6 linked regions of the Homo sapiens genome follow. The protein of the gene in region 1 purifies or fractionates together with the protein of each later gene. This does not show direct contact. Each region holds a gene or a part of one and is shown in the gene's direction. Other genes may lie near its edges. The genes, in order: SLC25A26, CRTAP, RAB31, KIRREL1, MYO19 and NBAS.

The links.
Region 2: the proteins of SLC25A26 (region 1) and CRTAP purify together in Homo sapiens (affinity purification with mass spectrometry; one large-scale study listed by BioGRID and IntAct). This does not show direct contact.
Region 3: the proteins of SLC25A26 (region 1) and RAB31 purify together in Homo sapiens (affinity purification with mass spectrometry; one large-scale study listed by BioGRID and IntAct). This does not show direct contact.
Region 4: the proteins of SLC25A26 (region 1) and KIRREL1 purify together in Homo sapiens (affinity purification with mass spectrometry; one large-scale study listed by BioGRID and IntAct). This does not show direct contact.
Region 5: the proteins of SLC25A26 (region 1) and MYO19 purify together in Homo sapiens (affinity purification with mass spectrometry; one large-scale study listed by BioGRID and IntAct). This does not show direct contact.
Region 6: the proteins of SLC25A26 (region 1) and NBAS purify together in Homo sapiens (affinity purification with mass spectrometry; one large-scale study listed by BioGRID and IntAct). This does not show direct contact.

Annotation. Positions count from the first base shown.
Region 1 is NC_000003.12:66,259,001-66,262,500, forward strand, and holds part of SLC25A26 (mitochondrial S-adenosylmethionine carrier protein), read left to right. Parts: intron 1-3,050; coding exon 3,051-3,155; intron 3,156-3,500. UniProt on the Homo sapiens protein: Mitochondrial S-adenosyl-L-methionine/S-adenosyl-L-homocysteine antiporter.
Region 2 is NC_000003.12:33,117,014-33,120,513, forward strand, and holds part of CRTAP (cartilage-associated protein isoform 1 precursor), read left to right. Parts: intron 1-3,330; coding exon 3,331-3,480; intron 3,481-3,500. UniProt on the Homo sapiens protein: Necessary for efficient 3-hydroxylation of fibrillar collagen prolyl residues.
Region 3 is NC_000018.10:9,711,301-9,714,800, forward strand, and holds part of RAB31 (ras-related protein Rab-31), read left to right. Parts: intron 1-3,500. UniProt on the Homo sapiens protein: The small GTPases Rab are key regulators of intracellular membrane trafficking, from the formation of transport vesicles to their fusion with membranes.
Region 4 is NC_000001.11:158,084,145-158,087,644, forward strand, and holds part of KIRREL1 (kin of IRRE-like protein 1 isoform 1 precursor), read left to right. Parts: intron 1-277; coding exon 278-435; intron 436-2,451; coding exon 2,452-2,602; intron 2,603-3,500. UniProt on the Homo sapiens protein: Required for proper function of the glomerular filtration barrier. It is involved in the maintenance of a stable podocyte architecture with interdigitating foot processes connected by specialized cell-cell junctions, known as the slit diaphragm.
Region 5 is NC_000017.11:36,524,869-36,528,368, reverse strand, and holds part of MYO19 (unconventional myosin-XIX), read left to right. Parts: intron 1-166; coding exon 167-305; intron 306-669; coding exon 670-818; intron 819-912; coding exon of another isoform or gene 913-1,005; intron 1,006-3,027; coding exon 3,028-3,141; intron 3,142-3,500. UniProt on the Homo sapiens protein: Actin-based motor molecule with ATPase activity that localizes to the mitochondrion outer membrane. Motor protein that moves towards the plus-end of actin filaments. Required for mitochondrial inheritance during mitosis.
Region 6 is NC_000002.12:15,467,335-15,470,834, reverse strand, and holds part of NBAS (NBAS subunit of NRZ tethering complex), read left to right. Parts: intron 1-2,301; coding exon 2,302-2,453; intron 2,454-3,030; coding exon 3,031-3,171; intron 3,172-3,427; coding exon 3,428-3,500. UniProt on the Homo sapiens protein: Involved in Golgi-to-endoplasmic reticulum (ER) retrograde transport; the function is proposed to depend on its association in the NRZ complex which is believed to play a role in SNARE assembly at the ER. Required for normal embryonic development.

The DNA of each region.
Region 1 (3,500 bases):
CCAGCATAGCTCTAGAATCAGACCCCTGGACGGGAGTGTTTGATTAGCCAGACCTAACTCACCTGATTGTGGTCCTCCTGCCAGGGTAGGAGGGGAGAGACTGACTCCCTTTGTTTTTCCTAACTGGGAAGCCCCCCACACGTGAGAGTCGGAAGCTGGGCTGCCAGAGAAGGCAGGTGTGCCCTGCAACATTATGTACCGCCTTCCAGTGTTGCTTGCTCTTTAGAAATTTATGTTCCCAGGGTTCCATTATTGGCTTTGATCTTCCTTTTTGGTTCTCTCTTTGGGTGTTACTATCTGGTTTTAGCGATCACCTGTATGCTGATGACTTCCATATCTGTATTCACATCCAAGAAAAAGTTACTTTCTAGTTTTATAGCCATATATTCATTTCTTGACTGGACATAGCCCCTTACCTGTCCCCCAGACTTCAACTCAGCCTTGCCTAGTCTGAACTTACCTCCCTTCTTCCCTGGACTGCTAATCTCATGTTTTGGGACCACCATATGCCTATTATCCAAACCAGAAACAGAAGCATCTTACTGTCTCCCTACTTCTTCACTCCTTAACCTCCTGTCAGTGACCAGGTCCGGTGCATTTTACTCCTTTTTCCTCAGATTTGACCTTCTCTGAGCCATATTCATTTCCAGATGTCTTTTATAGAACTGCTATAGCAGTCTCGTAACCCATCTTTTGCCTTCTGGCTCGTGGTCCCCCTTTGCTTCTTGCCTTCCTCCCCACCCTCCAGCTGTCCTGTGCATTGCAGCCAGAGTGATCTCCCTAAGCACACGTCATTCCTCTGCTTCAGCTTTTTCAAGTGTTCCCACTGACTATGGAATGAAGTTTCAGCCCCTTAGCATGGTATACAGGGCCTTGTCTGTCCAGTCTTACTTGTCATTACTCCTGACCTTGCACTTGCTGCTTTGGTAATACGGAATGGTGTGGGCAGCTGCCAGCTTTGGAATACTGTGTTGGTGGGACTGCCGCTGATTCCCCTGAACACCCTGCTTTTGTATTTATGTACTTCCTTTTATTGTTCATTCTTCCCACTGTGCCCTTTCCACCTTTCTTGCCAGCTCATTCCGGCTCATCCAGAAGGTTCTATAATGGTGTAATCTTGGGCAGTTTCTCTGAATCTGGGGGTTGGACTAAATACCCCTCCTCCACATTTCCCATAATCTTTGTCCATGCGCCCCACCCCCCTTTTGGCCATGTTTTATTGAAATTATTTATATGTATTTGCGGGTTCTTTGAAGCCAGGGCATCATCTTAGTCTTCTTTATCATGGAGTGGCTTGTGTGGTATCTGGCTCCATATGTATTTCTTGAACTGAATTAGATAAGTTTGAAGGGAGACTGGGTGGAAAAATATGTTGGCCCAAGTTACAGACAGCTTTATACATAAGAAGCATTCAAATGTTCAGTGAATGAAGAAATGGAAATCAGATGATATCGTTTTGTAAATCTTGTCAGTTTTGGTAGAAAAATAACTTCAGGTTATGAATCCTTTGTTAACATAACCATACCCTTTGTTGTAATGCATCGGTATGAAGCATTGTTACTTCTTAGCTTTAGAGGCAATATGCCCGTGTTAGCTGACTTCATGACATCTAAAATCACATCACATGGTGTCTTTGTCCCACTTGTCATGGGGTGCTCGGGCTTATATCTGTTCTGTGCCCAGTCTGCTCTTGCCAAGGCTAATTCCCTTGGAGTAGGAGTTGGCAAGCTGTCACCTGTTTTTGTAAATATAGTTTTATTGGAACATAGGCAAACTTTTAATTTATATATTATTATGTATAGATGCTTTTGTGCTAAAACAGCATAGTTGAACAATTGTGACAGAGACCATGTGGCTTGCAAACTGTAAAATATTTCCTATTTGGTCTTTTACATTATAAATTTGCTGTAGAGCCTTGCCTTAGAACCATTTAATTTTGGACAGGCAAAGCCTTATGTGATATCCAAATTGAGTACTGATCTCTGATTAGGAATCAGGAGAATACGGATCATAAAGGGCAAACCTCTTTGAGTTGTGTACTCTATTTGGTGGAATGGTTTTCTTACATTTCTTGCAGGCTGGTCTTGAACTCCAGGGCTCAAGCGACCTTCCTGTCTCGGCTTCCCGAGTGCCATAACTTTCATGTTCAAGGTTACATATGTGAAATCTAAGTTGCAGAAAAAGTTTGTATATTTGCAGACTGCTAGGTGCATAGCGGCTTAAATACAGGACTTTCATTAAAATGTTTAAAATATTTTTACACATCTCCCTCCCTGTACCTTGCCACCCCTTCTCCAACCTTGCCTTCTTTGCTTTTGTGGGCAGAGTTCCTTTGGGTTTGACTAATTCTTTATTGTTTCTATTTCTGAAAATAAGTAAATTACCTTAATATAGGGTAAGGTAAAATCCTGGCAGTGTGGATTTGAGATGACATATACCCGGCCTCAGCATGTCACCAAGGGTGATATTAGAATCATATATTGGCTGGTAGCTGTGAGGATGACTCAAGTCTGCTGGAATGCTGGAGGAGAGTGTATGAGAGTGCTGGGAGTCCCTTTTCAGTTGCTGCATGATCAAGAGGTCTAGGGGCTGGAGTTGGTGAAGGGTGGAAGGCTGGGTACCAGCTGATGGTCAGCTTGCCTCTACGGATGTATGCATTACTTCCAGTAAAGCAGAGGTTCCTCTGGTTCATTTTTCATCACACATGTTTGAAATGTCATGTGCCAGTTGCAGTTCTGGGCGTTGGGGATTCGAAATGAGTAAATGTGCTTCTTGCCGTTGGGAGGCTTGTAGACAGATGTTCTTGGAACATCTGGCGGGAGGTGGCAGGATCTATATAGGACAAGCCAGGAAAGGTTCTGGGCTGACAAAACAATGTACATGCTTTAAGGGTCCAAGAGTTTTAGGTTAAAAAAAAAAAAAGAAACTTTTTGACATCTTGCAGTAAGCCTACATATTATACCTTTTTACTACAATTTTTGCTTACCAAAAAATTTCAATTTTTATAGCAGTTATTTACTTTTTAGGATATAATCAAATTTGTCTTTTAGGTTGCCTGCCTGATTCGAGTTCCATCTGAAGTGGTTAAGCAGAGGGCACAGGTATCTGCTTCTACAAGAACATTTCAGATTTTCTCTAACATCTTATATGAAGAGGTGAGATGGGTTTTTTAAGCTCTTCTTTTCTTTATTAAGATTTTATAGTAGCTAATACGAACACTGTGGATTTCATCCTAAGAGCCTTAGAGAAAACTTTAGAGCTAAATTTAATGTCCAGTTATAGTAAATTTTTGCTAAGATTATCTTTGCCTTTTATTGGTTTTTGAATATTTTCATTTACATGTTTTTCAAATTTCTGAGCATAACATTGAGTGTCCTGAATTGTAATCTTCCTGCAGTTCTTCTGGAATCAGATGTGAAACAAATTTTAAATATGTAAAATGAAGAAAGATATTATATTAAAACATCAGTATAGTATTTTAGGTCCATGGAAGAGATTTA
Region 2 (3,500 bases), about 33 Mb from region 1:
GGAGGATCACTTGAGCCCAGAAAGTCAAGGCTGCAGTGAGCTGTGATCTTACCACTGCACTCCAGCCTGGGTGACAGAACAAGACTCTTGTGTCAAAAAAAAGTGATGTTTACGTGTTTAAACTCTGTTTATGGATAGAGAGGAAAAGATGGGTGGCAGGCACATACATTCTACCTGGCACCTGAAGGCTGGAGGTCGATATGAAGGTAGATAGTGCGCTGTGGCAGGACATGGATAAATGTTACTCTGCTGTTCTGAGTTGCAGTTCTCTGTTTCAGTGATTAAGGAGAAATGCCTCAATTGATCACTGGAATAGCAATGGTGGGTTCCGACTGCCAGAGGGAGGCGAGGAGGTTTGGATGTGTGCTCTTGTAGAAAAGGGCTGTGCTACTGGTGTGCAGCCTCAGGTGCATCATAGGTTTCTCGTCACCAGCCTACTCTAGGTCCATGTCATTAGCTTTCTTTGGGTTCTCTCCACAATTACCATCTTCCACGAAAAACTCATTTTTCTCATAGGCCAAGCAAAAAGTAGGCCGGAGCACTTCATCAAATCCTTAATGACTGTTGAGCTCTAACCTGGACAGAGAACACTGACTCACAGGCACTGTTAACCCCAGGCCTTGCCTGGCTGTGGCCTCTAACTCCCCGGAACCACAGGGCCTGCCTCTGTGTCATGGCTGATTTAGGGTGGCTCATGCTGGTGGCTGTATCTCAGGAACCCAAGGCAAGGTGGTTCCCTCCATCCCTACCACCTTCTCCAAAATCTGCCTGGGGTCTGTCAGAGGTTTGGTAGCCAAGATGTGTCTCCATGTTCCAGCTGCAGAGCCTGAGTTGAAGTAAATAAAATCACTCTTTTCTCTTCAGGAAGAGATTCCGTTTTGTAAAACATCCTAAGTTAGAAGCCTTAAAAATCCTACTCTGTGCCCCTCTTTCTATTCCTTTCTTTCTTTCTTTCTTTCTTTTTTGAGACGGAATCTCACTGTGTCACCCAGACTGGAGTGCAGTGGTGCGATCCTGGCTCACTGCAACCTCCGCCCCCCGGGTTCAAGTGATTCTCCTGCCTCAGCCTCCCGAGTAGCTGGGATTACAAGCACCTGCCACTGTGCCTGGCTAATTTTTGTCTTTTTAGTAGAGATGGGGTTTCATCATCTTGGCCAGGCTGATCTTGGACTCCTGACCTCGTGATCCACCCACCTCGACCTCCTAAAGTGCTGGGATTACAGGCATGAGCCACTGCTCCCGGCCTCTGTGCCCCTCTTTCTAAGTGCTGTTCTGAGAATTAGTGACTCTAATTTCACTGGCAAATGCTTTAAAAGGCAGCATTCATACCCTCTCCCTTCCTTCCAGCTGAAGACTAGCCTTTTTCTGGCCAGGAGTGTGAAGCTTTCTGTAGGGCTGTTTTAAAGGCAGCCCTGCCACAAGCCACTAATTGGCATTCCCAAAACATCAGCATTGACATCTGGGAGTCTGCCCTCATCACCACCCACCACTTCTCTGATGTGGCCACTGCCATTGTCTCAAAATGACTTGGTTCCAATTCTGGGGCAATTCGGTACCGATATATGCCATCCTATGACTCTTAGAAGTCTAGGGTATACCAAATATTCCTTTATTTTCTCTGTCTAAACCGAATTCCCTAATTCCCGCCTTGGAGCGTCCCTCTGGATTGGCTGAGTCTCTGTGCACATGCACAGGTGCCTGCCCTTCTCCCTACTAGGTTGTGCCAAGAGTCCATCAGCATGGGGGCCCTCTGGTTGGTGGTCATGAGTCCTCACAGGGAGGCCTCTGCATCCTTATTTGCCTGCCCTCCTGAGGTCCTGCCATAACATACCTGTTCTTCCTGAGGACTTCTGCCGTCTTGAACACTGCCGATAAGTGCCAGCCCTGAAGCTCCGGGGCCCGCAGCCCTGCTGCTCTCACAGATCCCAAGGGAAACTTTTTTCCTAGCCTGGGAGATTCCCTTTCTCCCTCTTCTTCTCCCAGGCCAGTCAGCTTCTTCCTGCAGCTCCTCTCCAATTTCTTTCTCCCCTCAAACCTGTCAGGCTCTTTTGTGAGTGCAGGCTTTTTTCAAGTGAATAATTTGCTGGTTCTGACCAGATATCTACCTCCCCTGAGACAGTGAAACTCAGAATCATTGGCCCCTTCAATGGAGAGAAGACAGAGGGGAAAAGAGAGGAAAATGTGAATTAATTTTATTATATTTTATGGTCATAATGTCATTATGTTCAAATCACAGATACTTATTGTGTCCTGCCTTGTCCTGAGGACTGTGTGAGGCACCAGGAATCCAGATAATGAATGACACACAGCTGGGTCCCCCGAGGATCATAGTCTGATGGGGGAGATAGACGTACCACTGAGATTGTAGGGTGGCGTAAAATGCGGGAAGACAGAACCCAGAACTAGCCCAACAGAGAGGCTCTTAATTGAGGCCACTAGGAGACAGGGAGAACTTAACAGAATATATGGTCCATGCAGGTGGGGATTTTTTTTTCCTGTTTTGCTTATTGTTATAGACCCACAACCTAGAAATGGTGCTCTTGTAATATGACGTTTATTGCTGCATGAATGGATGAATAAGTGAGGAGGTGGTGGAGTCATTGAGAATGTTAGCAGAAGGTCTGTGGGGGATTTGGGAAAACAATATATTTGTCAAGGTGCCAGTGGAAAAGATATGGTGCAGTCATATTGGGTAATTGGAGGAAAGTTTAAGAAGGTGGTTATTTACAAAGGTGTGTGCAGTGCATGGGGAATCCACAAGAGATAGTGTTCTGCCACAGGGGTGATAGCAGTGGGATATGACCAACCCTAGGCCAAAAGGGGCAGGGGAGAGAGCAGTGATTGAAACCGGGAAGGAGGGAGACTCTATGGAGAGGGTCACCTTGAGAAGAACTGTGATCTTCAATTAAGGGACATAGCAGCCCAAGAGGACTGTGCAGGGAGGGAACCAGGAAATGAAATAACATGACCTTACTCTCTTCCCTTCCTCAGTCATCTACTGGGGCTCCTCATGGGTGAACCTCTTTGGAAGCCAGAGAGCGAGGGAGTCTGTTGTTATAGTCCACACAGGCCAGCCTCCTGGGGCATGTAGCCAGTGCAGAGTAGATTGGGAAAGGCAGACCGAGGCCATCCAGACAGTCGCTTTCAGGAAATCAGCACTTGTCTCACAGTGCCTGGACTTGGTCTTGAGGGGCCCTGGAAGTCATGGAACCTTTAGCTGGAAAAGTTATAGCAACACAAAGTTTCTGAAGGACTAAGCAGATATTCTTGTTTTACAAAAATTACCACTTAGCATCCATGGAGTAGCTTTTATGTTCTTTGTCCTTTTAGGCAAATAATCTCCCCAAAGCCATCGCCGCTGCTCACACCTTTCTACTGAAGCATCCTGATGACGAAATGATGAAGAGGAACATGGCATATTATAAGAGCCTGCCTGGTGCCGAGGACTACATTAAAGACCTGGAAACCAAGTCATATGAAGTATGTTTGGATTTTTATGT
Region 3 (3,500 bases), on another chromosome or scaffold:
CAGCCTAGGTTTATTCTCTTGATTCGAGAGACCCTGTGGATCAGTCAGTGCTAAGTCCAAAAGTCCTTTAAAAAATATATGTATATTTTTGAGATAGGGTCTCACTCTGTCACCCAGGCTGGAGTGCAATGGTGCCATCCTGGCTCACTGCAGCCTCAGCCTCCCAAGCTCAGGTGATCCTCCCACCTCAGCCTGCCAAGTAGCTGGGACCACAGGTGTGTACCACCCAGCCCAGCTAATACTTTTTATTATTTTTGTAGAGATGGGGTCTCCCTATGTTGCCCAGGCTCTTTCAACATTTTAACAGGAACCTTGGGCTCATTTGTGCTTTGCGTAGGGAGGTCTGTCTTTTCTGGGTGAAGTTTTGTGTGTGGCTGGCATTCAGCTTCCTGTTTTTTAGCCATGAGACACCTCCCTGAAGTCTTGCTATGACCAAGACCCTGACAGCCACACCTTCTTTCTGCCTGTTAGAATCACTTTCTGTCGGGTTTCCCTTATAAGGTGATAGAGAACATAGACTTCATAACAAAATATCACTCTCACTGGGAAGGCTGAGGGGTTGGTCTTTTTGTGCCTGGTACTGTGCTCAGTGGGGACTTGGGGACATGCTTCGCATTTAAGGTATAGGTTGTTTTAGGCATGGGCAGTAGGCGCTTTCAGCACAGGCTCCCTGCTGGTCACTCTTTGCTGTAGTTTCCTGCTCCATCCATGGGGTCGGAGGTCTTACCTCCTGACGTTAGAGTCATTTGCAGCAGGTGGGAGTGAAAGTGGGCCGGGTGCCAGGTCTTCTTTACCTGAACCTCTCCTGTCTTCCTGGCACATTAGGAATGTCCAAGCTTATTTCTATTGGTGAATGCTCCCACATGGGATGGATAATGGCCTGTGGAACATTCTCTGAATGCTTTGTGTTCTTGGAAAACCAAGGACTGAAGAGCGTTGGGTTTGTTTAGGTTACCTGTTATAAATTCTTGGCTCACATTTCATGTGTGGACTTTCTTGGGTTTATTCCACATGGGGACAGCCCAGCAAGCCTTTGTGAACGCCCTTTCCTGGCCTGAGCCGAGTCACCTGTGGAAGTCAGCCGTGCAGGAGGGTGTGCTTGATAGGGGGAAGCACCCTGGGCAGGACCCCATGAGTTTCCTTCTTACCAGGAAAGTGTCATTCGTCCCACTTTGTGATCTGAACTGGTATTATGAAACATGAAGCTTAAAGGCAACAAAGTATGTTAACAACAACAACAAAAAATACTTAACAAAAACAACACTGAGGCAGCAGCTGCTTCAACCCCAAAGGTGGAAAAGTTTCCCAGTATGCATTTTTAACACACATCACCATGTGGCAAGAAGCAGGAGGAAGGGAGAGAGTGGGGAGGAGGAGAAAGAGAAGGAGGGGACCTTTGTTTTGTTATCTCCTTGGGGTATTTGTGTGCGTGCACTTAAAAACTGCGTGCACTTAAAAACTGCTTCCTGATGGAATCCCAAAGAGATTTATATTTGGACTTTGGTTGTCTTGACAACAATTTAGAAATTCCTACCACTTCCTCAATAGCTGAGTGATCAGTTAAAAGAGCCGATGGCTTCCCTGCTTCTGGTAAGGAGCTTGTTGAAGCATCTTGTGATCTTTGTTGGAATGTATATGGTGGCTCATTAAAGAGCAGTCAAATACCTGGGATTTGGTGAGACATCTGGGTAATGGGTACTTCACCTATGTCCAGGGCCTTCGCATGGAAGGCCTCTTGTCTCCCCAGGGACACTAGGACGCAAGAGTAGAACAGATTTATACTCACAGTAAGGCAGATCATCAGAACTGTGCAACCTCACATGAGTTGCTATGAGCACTGTATGACAGAGTATCCAATAAGGTGATAAGAATTTGTTAGTGTTATTGTGGAAGGAAGTAATGCATAGGATAGTGGGTTGGGCTAGGTAATGATCACATTTGCTTTCCAAGTCTGAGATTCTAGTAACTTACTATTTTTTCTCCCGAGACTGGCATTTCTTGGGGAAGGGGGATGGTGGGGAGGGTTGAGTGGCTAGCCACAGCATTTATTTCTTGGCACAACTGATTCCTCTACTAAATTGAACCATTTGTGGAAAGTATGTTCAGCATTGGTGACTCTGGGTACGTTCTATGTTACACGAGAATAAATATGATATAGTGGGCTATCTTCCCAGCAGTGCCTGGCATATGGTAACACTGTGTCTTATGCACCCATCCCAGGCTGATGGAATCCATCAGGGTCCCTTTGTTCCTCCTTTGTTCAGGGTCAGCATTGCTGCTTTCATCCTCCCTCAGCTTTCAGAGCTCAGTGCATCTCTGGAGTGTGTATCAGAATCATTTGAGGAGCATTTTCAAGCTTCTCATGGTCCCTTCCCCCATCCCTTATGTCTTAATTTGAGCTGCTGTCACAAAAATACCATAGGCTGGAGGGCTTAAACAATAGACATTTAATTCTCACAGTTCTGGAGGTTGGGAAGTCTAAGACCAAGGCGCTGGCAGATCTAGTGCCTGGTGAGGGCTCGATTTCTGGTTTGCAGACAGCTGCCTTCTTGCTGTAACTTCACATGACTGAGAGAGTGCTCGGTCTCTTTCTCTTCTTATAAGGACGCCAACCCCATTCATGAAGGCTCTACCCTCACAACCTAAGCACCTCCCAAAGGCCCACCTCCTAATATCCTCACATTGGAGGTTAGGCTTCAAAATGGGAATTTTGTTGGAGGGACACAAATATTAATTCCATAGTACCTTGTCAATAGTGTTCAGGCATGTGGCCTCTACTTTTGCCCTGGCCCAATGACACTGTTTTAGTGAGTGTGATATATCCTTTAGGTCTGCTCTAAGGCCACAGCCATGAGAAAATAGGAAACTTTACATTTTAAGATGCTAGGACAGTGGTCCCCAACCTTTTTGGCACTAGGGATCAGTTTTGTGGAAGACGATTTTTCCACAGATGGGAGCAGGAGGCGGGGGATGGTTTTAGGATGAAACTGTTCCACGTCAGATCATCAGGCATTAGTTAGATTCTCATGAGGAGCATGCAACTTAGATCCCTCACATGCGCAGTTCACAACAGGGTTTGCACTCCTGTGAGAATCTAATGTCACCATTGATTTGACAGGAGGCAGAGCTCAGCTGGTAATGCTCACTCACTGTTCACCTCCTGCTGTGCAACCTGGTTCCTAACAAGCCATGGGTCAGTACCGCCCCAGGGGTTGGGGACCTCTGTGCTAGAACGCAAAAGCTTTTGAGTTCACTAATTGGAAAAGACCTTTAAAATTTAATTAAGCCTGGTAGATAACGCTTATTTGGTGTTTGCATGCCTGTGCAGATTTTACACTTTCATTTATCTTAGTTTTTATCACTTATGACATGTGTTTGAAAATGGAATAGGTATTCATTCATTCAGCCATTCACCATTTGTGGAGTGTTTCTTTTATGCTGGGAGCTGTGGGTGGCTGCATGTAGACAGGATGGCAGTGATTGTTGCCTTCCCAAAGACA
Region 4 (3,500 bases), on another chromosome or scaffold:
AACAAACAATAAACCAGTAGGGGCATGGAGTACCAGAAAATATTATAGGCCAGGAAAGAAAAGCAGACAAGGACTGGGAAAGATGTGTGAGCTGAGGACCTAGAGGAAGCCACCACAAGAGCAATGAAGACAGTGGTTGTAGATTAGGGGGTAGGGTGGTACCGCCTACCTAGAGGCGCACATGCAGGTGGAAGGATGCTTCCAGAGGCAGGAGTTTTGGTCTTCAGGGAAGTGTTAGCCACACCCTGCACTGACTTTGCTCTGCTTTCTCCCACAGTCCCCCCAGAGGACACCAGGATTGACGGAGGCCCTGTGATTCTACTGCAGGCAGGCACCCCCCACAACCTCACATGCCGGGCCTTCAATGCGAAGCCTGCTGCCACCATCATCTGGTTCCGGGACGGGACGCAGCAGGAGGGCGCTGTGGCCAGCACGGTGAGCTCCAGCCAGCTCCCCCAGCTCCTCCTGGGCCTAGCCCAGCTCACCTCTCCTTTCCCACAGGGGTTTCACCACAGACTCAGGAGCACACAGACATGAGAGGGGTCTTAGAGGTCATCTGGTTCAACCCTCTCATTCTACAGTTGGGAAAATTGAAACCCAGAGAAGAGAAATGAATTCCTAGGTTTACTGTGTCATTCAGTAGCTGAACAGAGACTAATAGTAATAATAAGTTGCCATGGATTAAGCACCTACTGTGTGCCAGACACCGTGCATGCTAAACACTTTATGGACAGTCTCTCTTAATCTTCATAGGAGTCCCATAAAGGAGGCATTATTTCCAACTCACAAAGGAGGAAACTTGCGCTCAGAGAGGTTGAGTGACTTGTCCAAGGTCACACAGCTGGCACAGAGCGGGGGTTTGTACCTGGGTCTGACTGTGCTTTCTCTCCACTGATCACTTCTACCTCTTTCCTTCAGCGTCTGGTTGTCAGATTATTCCAGTCATCACAACAAAGAGGCTGGGGAAGCAGAGATCCTTGTATACATTTTATAGATGAGGAAGCCATGAAAGATATCAAGTGACTTGCCCAGGATTACATAGCAAAGCGGACAGTACAGCTGGAATTCAAAGCCAGATTTCCTGGTTGGGGTTACCCTGCCAGTTGTGGGTAAACATATGTGTATTCAGCCCTTTGCTGGTGCTGCAGGAGCACTTCTCAGTGTGGAGACAGAGATGTTCCCATGCTCCTCAGCAAGCAATCCCAGGAATACCTGGCTTCTGGCTTCAGTTCTGCCCTTAACACACTGTGTGACCTTGGATAATTCGCTTCACTTTTTTCTGGCCTTAGTTTCTCATTTGACAAATGATAATTCAGCCTCAGTGGTACTTAACCTTTTCACAACCAAAAACTGTGATTTTTCTTCATCAGGGCTACATGTTTTTAGATATTTTGGCAACCAAACAAGTTGGTTTGTTAATATCCATTTGTCATCTACCCCCATTTTTCATATTCATTAAAGACAATGGAGCTTCAAAGCAGCACAAGGGAGCCAGTGTTATTGCACTGGCCCTCAACTGGGCCTGTCCAGCAAAGCTGCATGCATGGTGGTCAAACAACGGGGTCTTACTTTGATTAATAATATGGCTTCCCTCAGGCAGTTTGCAATATAGAAAACAGATCAAGGGTTCCTGTGACCATATTTAGGGACCCCTGGCTGTCACTGAGCAAGTGTAAGACTTCGAGCCTGTGAGTCCCTTCCCTGCCCTCAAGGAGTTTACAGTTTAGCAGAAGAAACCCAACCCTGAAACACGCACACATGGTGCCTACAAGCAAGGTTGGATGTGTCTAGAGCTGTGAGCAGGACACACTGACTATAAGGGCATAAATTCAGTCTGGGAGAGAGTTCTGAGGGCTGGGCTGGCTGAAGAAGGCTTTCCAGAAGAGAAGGGATTTGCGCTGGACTCACAAAGAGTGAACTCTAATATAAACTGTGGCCTTAATAATAATATATTAGTTTCGGTCCATCAGTTGTAACAGACTTATCACTCTAATGCAAGGTGTTAAGGTGTTAGTAATGGGGGAAAGTGTAAGGTCGGGGAGGAGGGTATATGGAAACTCCCTGTACTTTCTGCTCAATTTTTCTGTAAACTTAAAACTGCTCCAAAAGATAGTCTGTGATGTGGGCATGATGGCACACTCCTGTAGTCGCTGCTACTCAGAAGGCTCAGGCAGGAGGATTGCTTGAGTCCAAGCTTTGGAGGCCAGCCTGGGCAACATAGCAAGACCCTAAAAATATATAACTTTTAATTAAAAGATAATTAGTAGTCTATTGATTAAACACACACACACACACACACACACACAAGGGAAGAGGTTGTGGGAGTGAAGGGGATTGAGCTTTAAGTTAAAGTACCCCTCCAGCCCAAGCCCATCTCTGAGTGAGGTCAACTTAAGAGCAGAGGAGGGGGCTTTTAGCTTAACCATATCTCCCACCCTTGTCATGTTCCAGGAATTGCTGAAGGATGGGAAGAGGGAGACCACCGTGAGCCAACTGCTTATTAACCCCACGGACCTGGACATAGGGCGTGTCTTCACTTGCCGAAGCATGAACGAAGCCATCCCTAGTGGCAAGGAGACTTCCATCGAGCTGGATGTGCACCGTGAGTGGGCTGGGGGGAGCAGTCTGGAGCAGGGGGGTGGAAGAAGGGGTGTGTTTGAGAAGCACACTCTTAGTTTGAGAAACACAAACTAAGAGTCCCCCTATGGTCCCCAGGACAAACGCTTGCCTTCTTCACATCTTTCATTCCCTGGATTGAACCATGGGGACTAAGGGCTGGTAGAGCATTGGCTGTGGAGTCAGGCAGTCCCCAGGTCTAAACCAGCCTGTTATTAGTCAATGGTTTACACTCTCTGGGCCTCGGTTTCCAGTTCTGTATACTGTATATTGCAAAAGATAAAATACTGGCCTACAGTCCCTTATTCAAACTAAAAGTGGTTCGATGGTGCAGCCTGAACCAAGGCTCTTCATAGTCTTTTATTTAATTTAGTCTTAAGTTTCACTGCAGATGTATTCATATGTGTGACTATGGGATGTGGCCCAGATGCTGCTGGGGATCTTACACAGTAAACGCTCTATGCACAACCATTGCCTTTCTAAATGTGAAAAATTCTAAATTCTGAAATGCATCTAGTCCTAAGGGTTTCAAATAAGGGATTGTGGACCTGGACCTGCTTCCTGGGGTTGTGAGCATTAAATGAGATATAGCAGAAGAGCATCTAGCATGGAGTATTCTTACCTGGTAGGTGTGTAATAAATTGTCTCTCCCCAGGGAACCATGGGGGTGTGGGCAGCAACTGGGGATGCCCACACCCCATCCTTTTTAGTGAGCCAAGCAAGCTCACACTGACGCCTAGTGGCCACAGTGGGTCATTAGTCCATTGAGTTATTTGTCCCTTTGGTGCCTTCATTGGTGGTCACCCTAGCAGGCCCCCTAGAGGCTCCATGTGCAAAAGGTGAGGAAGACAGTGTGTTAACTGGAGCCGATACACTGCAACCTC
Region 5 (3,500 bases), on another chromosome or scaffold:
TGGCTAATTTTTTGAATTTTTTTTAGTAGAGACGGGGTTTCACCGTGTTAACCAGGATGGTCTCGATCTCCTCACTTTGTGTCCTGCCCGCCTTGGCCTCCCAGAGTGCTGGGATTATAGGCATGAGCCACTGTGCCTGGCCTCACCTTCACGTTATCTCTTCCAGGTCAATGGCCACAATCCGGGGTCTGATGGCCAAGCCAGGGAGTACCTCAGAGAAGACCTGCAGGAGTTCCTGGGTGGGGAGGTCCTGCTGTACAAACTGGATGACCTCACCAGGGTGAATCCTGTGACACTAGAGACAGGTATGGGCCTCCCATTCCTCAGGAGTATCATCTCCAGGAGGTTGGAGGTGTAATGAGAGTAGTCAGCACAGCTTCTCCAGGTCAGACGGAGGTCGGCAGGACTCCTGATCTGGAGCCAGGTGGGCTGCTCCAGACCTCCGCCTGAGGGAGCATGACAGCTGCACCTGGGCTCCCCAGGGCATGCTTTGCTTCAGATTTGGAGCTCATCTTAATTAGATCTTGTATCTTTTCTTCAGGGAGCTGCTGGGATTTAATGATTCTTGGCTAATTGCAGAAAGAGGGCTGTTACTTAAGTAGATGTGTGTCTGTGTGTGTGGTTTGACTATATTTGAGCCCGAGTTTGCTAAAGGCATCTCTGCCTCAGTCCTGAGGTGCCTGCAGGCCCGGTACATGGCAGACACATTCTACACCAATGCTGGCTGCACCCTGGTAGCCTTGAACCCCTTCAAGCCTGTTCCTCAGCTCTACTCGCCCGAGCTAATGAGAGAGTACCATGCTGCGCCTCAGCCCCAGGTAAGGCTCTGCCGCTGCCTGTGGCCTCAGGGCTCCTCTACCTCCCGCTAAACCTCTTTGCAGTTACCCCTGTCCTTATTCATCTATTCACCAGCAATGTGGTCATTCAGAGTCTGCTAGTGCCACGGCCTGCCCAATAGGAGCTGGCAGAATTTTGAACCATGAAGAACTGACTACAGGACAGAAGGTGCAAAGTGGGGAATAAATAAATATTTGTTTAACTGAGTTTGGAACCTAAAATAAGAGACATAAGAGAAAGGATTTTTTTTTCTTGTTTGCGGTTTTATTAACAGGAAAGGATTTATAAAGGTATTATATATTTGTTTATTTAACAAACTACCTTTTTATTTTTTATTATTATTTATTTATTTATTTATTTATTTTGAGATGGAGTTTCAGTCTTATTGCCCAGACTGGAGTGCAATGGCATGATCTGGGCTCAGCGCAACCTCCACCTCCTGAGTTCAAGCAATTCTCCTGCTTCAGCCTCCTGAGTAGCTGGGATTACAGGCATATGCCACCACACCTGGCTAATTTTGTATTTTTAGTAGGCATATTGGTCAGGCTGGTCTCAAACTCCTGACATCAGGTGATCTACCCACCTTGGCCTCCCAAAGCGCTGGAATTACAGGTGTGAGCCACTGTACCCGGCCCTATTTATTTTGAGACTGAGTCTCTCCCTGTCACCCAGGCTGGAGCGCAGTAGTGCGATCTTGACTCACCGCAACCTCCGCCTCCAGGGTTCAAGTGATTCTTGTGCCTCAGCCTCCCGAGTAGCTGGGACTACAGGTGCCCACCACCATGCCCGGCTAATTTTTGTATTTTTAGTAGAGATGGGGTTTCACCATGTTGGCCAGGCTGGTCTCGAACTCCTGACCTCAAGTGATCCACCTGCCGTAGCCTCCCAAAGTGCTGAGATTATAGGCATGAGCCACTGAGTCCAGCAAAACTACCTTTTTAGGAAAGAATGAAATTATACACGATAAGGATTGCCCTGGAAAATTCAGCATATGTTTATCTCTGCTGAGGAAAGTAACTTATTCTTTTACTGAGAAAAGGATAAGTTATTTGGGGTGGGGTGGTGGAGGTACAGACAGATAATGAGCTTGTTGGTGTAAAAGTGCATGATGCATTCAGGGAGAGGTGAGAGAAAACTTGCTGGCAGGAGGGAGGTCTTGGGGGCAAGAGGGAGTAGATGAGAGCAGGAAGACGAGAAAGCCAGGGTTGTTTGTGAAGAGTCTGAAGCACCATAGCAGGCAGAGAGAATCTGCAGAGCATCTTCATCCAGGTAGAGGTGGGACTGGGAACAGAACCCACTAGACGAATAATTACTGTGGGAGTTGGGTTCAAGAAGGTGAGGCAGGAGGCAGAGACAACAGTTGGAGGCTTTGTATCCCTCCAGGTGATAGGTGGCTGGGGCAAGGGCAGGTGTAGAGAGGAGTGGCTCTGACGCCATATGGAACAGTTGCCTTCTCCCTCAGCAAGCTGTGGGTAAGTGATCACTGCTGGCTGGGTTAGCTAGGCATTGTGGAGATGGCGTGGCCCTCCAGAAGTTCATGCGTGATGAGGTATCCAGTTGGAATCCAGGGGCAGTCTGTCCTGAGAGCCCTGTCTGCTGTCTGCCCTGCCTCCGGAAAAGTAAAAGCCAAGTCGTAGTCCCCTATGTTTCCTCAGCATCCAGCTTGATTGATGCCTAGTACATTGAAGACAGTTAATAGTTGTTGAAGAAAAGGGGAACAGTGGCTTTGGAATTTAAATCACATGGATATACTTACTTGCTGAGTGGCCTTGCAAGGTTATTTAACTCCTCTGAACCTCACATTCCTTATCTATAAAATAGGGTTATATTTCCAATTAGTGGACAGGCTTCTTAGTAGTTTATACGAACTTTGCAAATTGCAAATTATAGTAATATGAAGTAATAGGCAGAAGGATAAGACAATTAAAGCAAGATAAGATGGGGGTATAAAGTGTTAATGTCATAAACTGGTCAAGGCTAGCCCTGCTTCTAGGCTGAGAGAAAATGAATAGGTAAAGCCAACATAGGGGTTCTAAAGTTGGGCCTAACAATGTGACATCCAGAAAATTTTTCTGGAGGAAGCATCCCACCACTGCTATTGGCAGCCTCCCCATCTCAGTCATCATTGGCTCAGTCATCATTGAAAAACAGGCATTCCCTCACATGACCTTTCACTCCTTGATGTTCCAGAAACTGAAGCCCCATGTGTTCACTGTGGGTGAACAGACCTACAGGAATGTCAAGAGCCTGATTGAACCAGTCAACCAGTCTATTGTTGTCAGTGGAGAGAGTGGTGCTGGAAAGGTAGGAAGACGTCTTTCCCATCCTGTCAACTCACGACTGGCTGGGTGGACAGGGAGGCAGGGGTCATTCCTTGGCCTTCCTTGTGGAGTTGTTTGCTTCCTAATCATTCCCACATAGGCTGGCTGAAGCTGGGGTTGGTGCACAATGGTGGGCTAGCACTGAGCCGGAAGTCAAGAGACAGGATACCAGTCCAGGCTCTACTGCAAGCTCTGCCATCACCCTGGGTGAAATAGGAATGAAGTTTCCTTTCTAAGCCTTATTTTCTCATCGAAAGTGTCTCCCAGCTCTTGACACTACTGGAAACAAAAGTCAGCTGCTGGGGATTCCAGCATAGTGGTTAAGAACACATCAGAAAAGTA
Region 6 (3,500 bases), on another chromosome or scaffold:
GCACACAACACCACACCTGGCTAATTTTTGTATTTTTAGTAGAGACGGGGGTTCACCATATTAAAAATAACTGGCCGTATAAGTAGATTTCAGATACAACTCTAGAAACCCAGTGAAGATAGTGATTATTATAGATCTGGTAGAGATGGAAGATTTTATATAGTGAAGATGTTTGGAGCAGGGATTTGGAAGGATTTAAATTAGGCCTTCTTGAATGAGAAGGGAGGAAGACATTCTTAACAGGACAGATGGTATGAACAAATTAAAAGACACTGAGCATGATTTATGAGGCCAGTGACTAAATCTGTTTTATTCACTGCTATATTTCCATGTCTAGTTCAGTGGCTGGTGTGCAGTAGGTGCCCAGTAAACATTTTATGGATAAATGAGCTCTGTACATCAACCAGTTTGCTGGCACTGATATTTGACAATAGTGAACACTGGGAAACATGATTGAAAAGATATATTGATTTGAGTTCAGGAGGATGTGGAAAGCTTCTGATGACTTAGGCATTTATCTACTGTTGTGGATTTCTGACTGTGGAAGCAGAGGAAGATGGTGTAGAGAGAATTGGAGTGGAAGGAAGGTAGGAAACCTTGCTTGGGGCAGGGGACTCCTACAGTGTGCTAGATGTTTTGTGTTGATGATTTAGACTGGTATGGAGGCCGCAGCTGTGGAAAAGGGAAAGTGAATTAAGAGACATTTGAAGAAAGAACTGATGTGAGGCAATATATAAAGGATCCTAGGGAATGAGTCAAATCTTAATTAAAATTTATAACCATAATAGCTCTTTCTAGGAAGAGGGCAAGTCAGGGATTTTTTTTTTATTTTTTATTTTTTAATTATTATTTTACTTTAAGTTCTAGGGTACATGTGCACAACGTGCAGGTTTGTTACATATGTATACATGTGCCATGGTGGTGTGCTGCACCCATTAACTCGTCATTTACATTAGGCATATCTCCTAATGCTATCCCTCCCCCCTCCCCCCACCCCCCAGCAGGCCCCGGTGTGTGATGTTCCCCACCCTGTGTCCATGTGTTCTCATTGTTCAATTCCCACCTATGAGTGAGAACATGCGGTGTTTGGTTTTCTGTCCTTGTGATAGTTTGCTCAGAATGATGGTTTCCAGCTTCATCTATGTCCCTATACAGGATGTGAACTCATCCTTTTTTATGGCTGCATAGTATTCCATGGTGTATATATGCCACATTTTCTTAATCCAGTCTATCATTGATGGACATTTGGGTTGGTTCCAAGTCTTTGCTATTGTGAGTAGTGTCGCTATAAACATACGTGTGCATATGTCTTTATAGTAGGAAGATTTGTAATCCTTTGGGTATATGCCCAGTAGTGGGATTGCTGGGTCAAATGGTATTTCTAGTTCTAGATCCTTGAGGAATCGCCACACTGTCTTCCACAATAACAAAGACACAACATACCAGAATCTCTGGGACACATTTAAAGCAGTGTGTAGAGGGAAATTTATAGCACTAAGTGCCCACAAGAGAAAGCAGGAGAGATCTAAAATTGACACCCTAACATCACAATTTACAGAACTAGAGAAATAAGAGCAAACACATTCAAAAGCTAGCAGAAGGCAAGAAATAACTAAGATCAGAGCAGAACTGAAGGAGATAGAGGCACAAAAAAACCTTCAAAAAATCAATGAATCCAGGAGCTGGTTTTTTGAAAAGATCAACAAAATTGATAGACCACTAGCAAGACTAATAAAGTCAGAGATTTTGAATGGAGTTGGAGGAAATAGTTGGGAGGGAGGAATAGGACTTTGATCTTTCCAAAAAACAGCATATCATGACTTTTTATGATCAAGTTATTCACACCCTGGGATATATCTCATGGTCAAATAAATACAGAAATTTGATGGGCTCATTTGTTTTGTTTAAAAGTTAAACATGCTTATTAATTATGACAGAATATATCTTGCCTTTCTGCCTTATTGTCTGCTCTATTATACAGCCACGGTGCAAACCAAAGGCATTTATAAAAGTTAGGAGGAAACATTTTATATTTCCAAAAATGAGTCCTGAGCTTTCTGTTTCTGCGTAGCTCATTAGAGGAAGAAAGCAAGCAGGTCAACTCACACTCCCCGCATCCAGTTGTAGTCACCATTAGGCAACTGGCTGCTTTTCTCTTGAGTTCCTCTAGCAGCTCCCTATGGCCAAGGTCCTAAATAGCTGTAATACATCAGGTATAGCTTTACAATTCTGAAGGCAGTTGTAATGTGTTGTAAGATGTCATGGATTCTGTAATTCCTCTGTTTCTTCCTTTATATGCAGAGTAAAATAAAGAAGCGATCCTGGGTTCTCCATGAGTGTTTGGAAAGAGTTCCTGAAAATGTGGATGCTGCAAAAGAACTGCTTCAGTATGGATTAAAAGGCACAGACCTGGAGGCTCTTTTAGCAATAGGGAAAGGAGCAGATGATGGCAGGTTGGTTACAGAAAGAATTGGATTCAAAGTAAAGGTGACTTTGTGAAAACTTTTGTACTGAGACATTGGACTGGGTAAACTTTTCTTTATTTAAGTTATTCTGTACTGAAGCAGTTGCTTTTGATCAATACTGTCTTACCTGAAGTCATTGCTCATCAGGCATTTGGAACTTTTTAAAAAATATAAATATGAGAGTATATCTGAGAAGTAAATAATTAAAATGAGACTGACACTACCATTTGAAGACCTTAAGTAGAAGTGATTCAAATAGCAAACTCTGTGGACATTTTCAGCATAGGCTGCTTTACATTGAGTGAATGTAACCCCACATCTCTTCCTAAATAGTTTTCATTTTCTTGATTTTTAGATTTCTATTTGTAATAATTACTGATGACTTTTTGCCCATCTGTGGATATAATGAATGATCACTTTGTTTACAATGGCAAAAGTTTTTTTCAAATACTTTCTTCTGTTTTTGTGGAAATCAATAATGAAATCAGTCAAAATAGGAGAAAGCTTTTCACAACACGAAGTTTTTAAAAATGATGAAAATATATTTGTTCTTTTATACTTGCAGATTTACATTACCTGGTGAAATAGACATTGACAGTATCTCCTATGAAGAGCTTTCACCACCTGATGAAGAGCCTGCCAAGAATAAAAAGGAAAAGGAGCTCAAGAAGAGACAAGAACTACTGAAATTAGTGAACTTTTCCAAGTAAATGAGTTGTTACTGTTCATTTGATAGTTTCTTTAAAATAACTAATCATTTCAGTGTGTTCCTTACTAGTAATAATTAGTCCAAATTATTTTAGCAACTTAGATCAAATGTACTTACTATTATCTTACCCTTGTGCTTTTCTGAACTGTTTCATGAGTTTTGGGCTCAACGGAATATTAATCATTTTCATTATAACTCCTAGAGAAATAATTCTGTGTAAATATAAGTGGCCTAACATAGTTATTCAAAACAGGTTGACACTGGAACAAAAGGAACTTTGCCGTTGTAGACGGAAGTTATTAACCTACTTAGATCGACTTGCAACA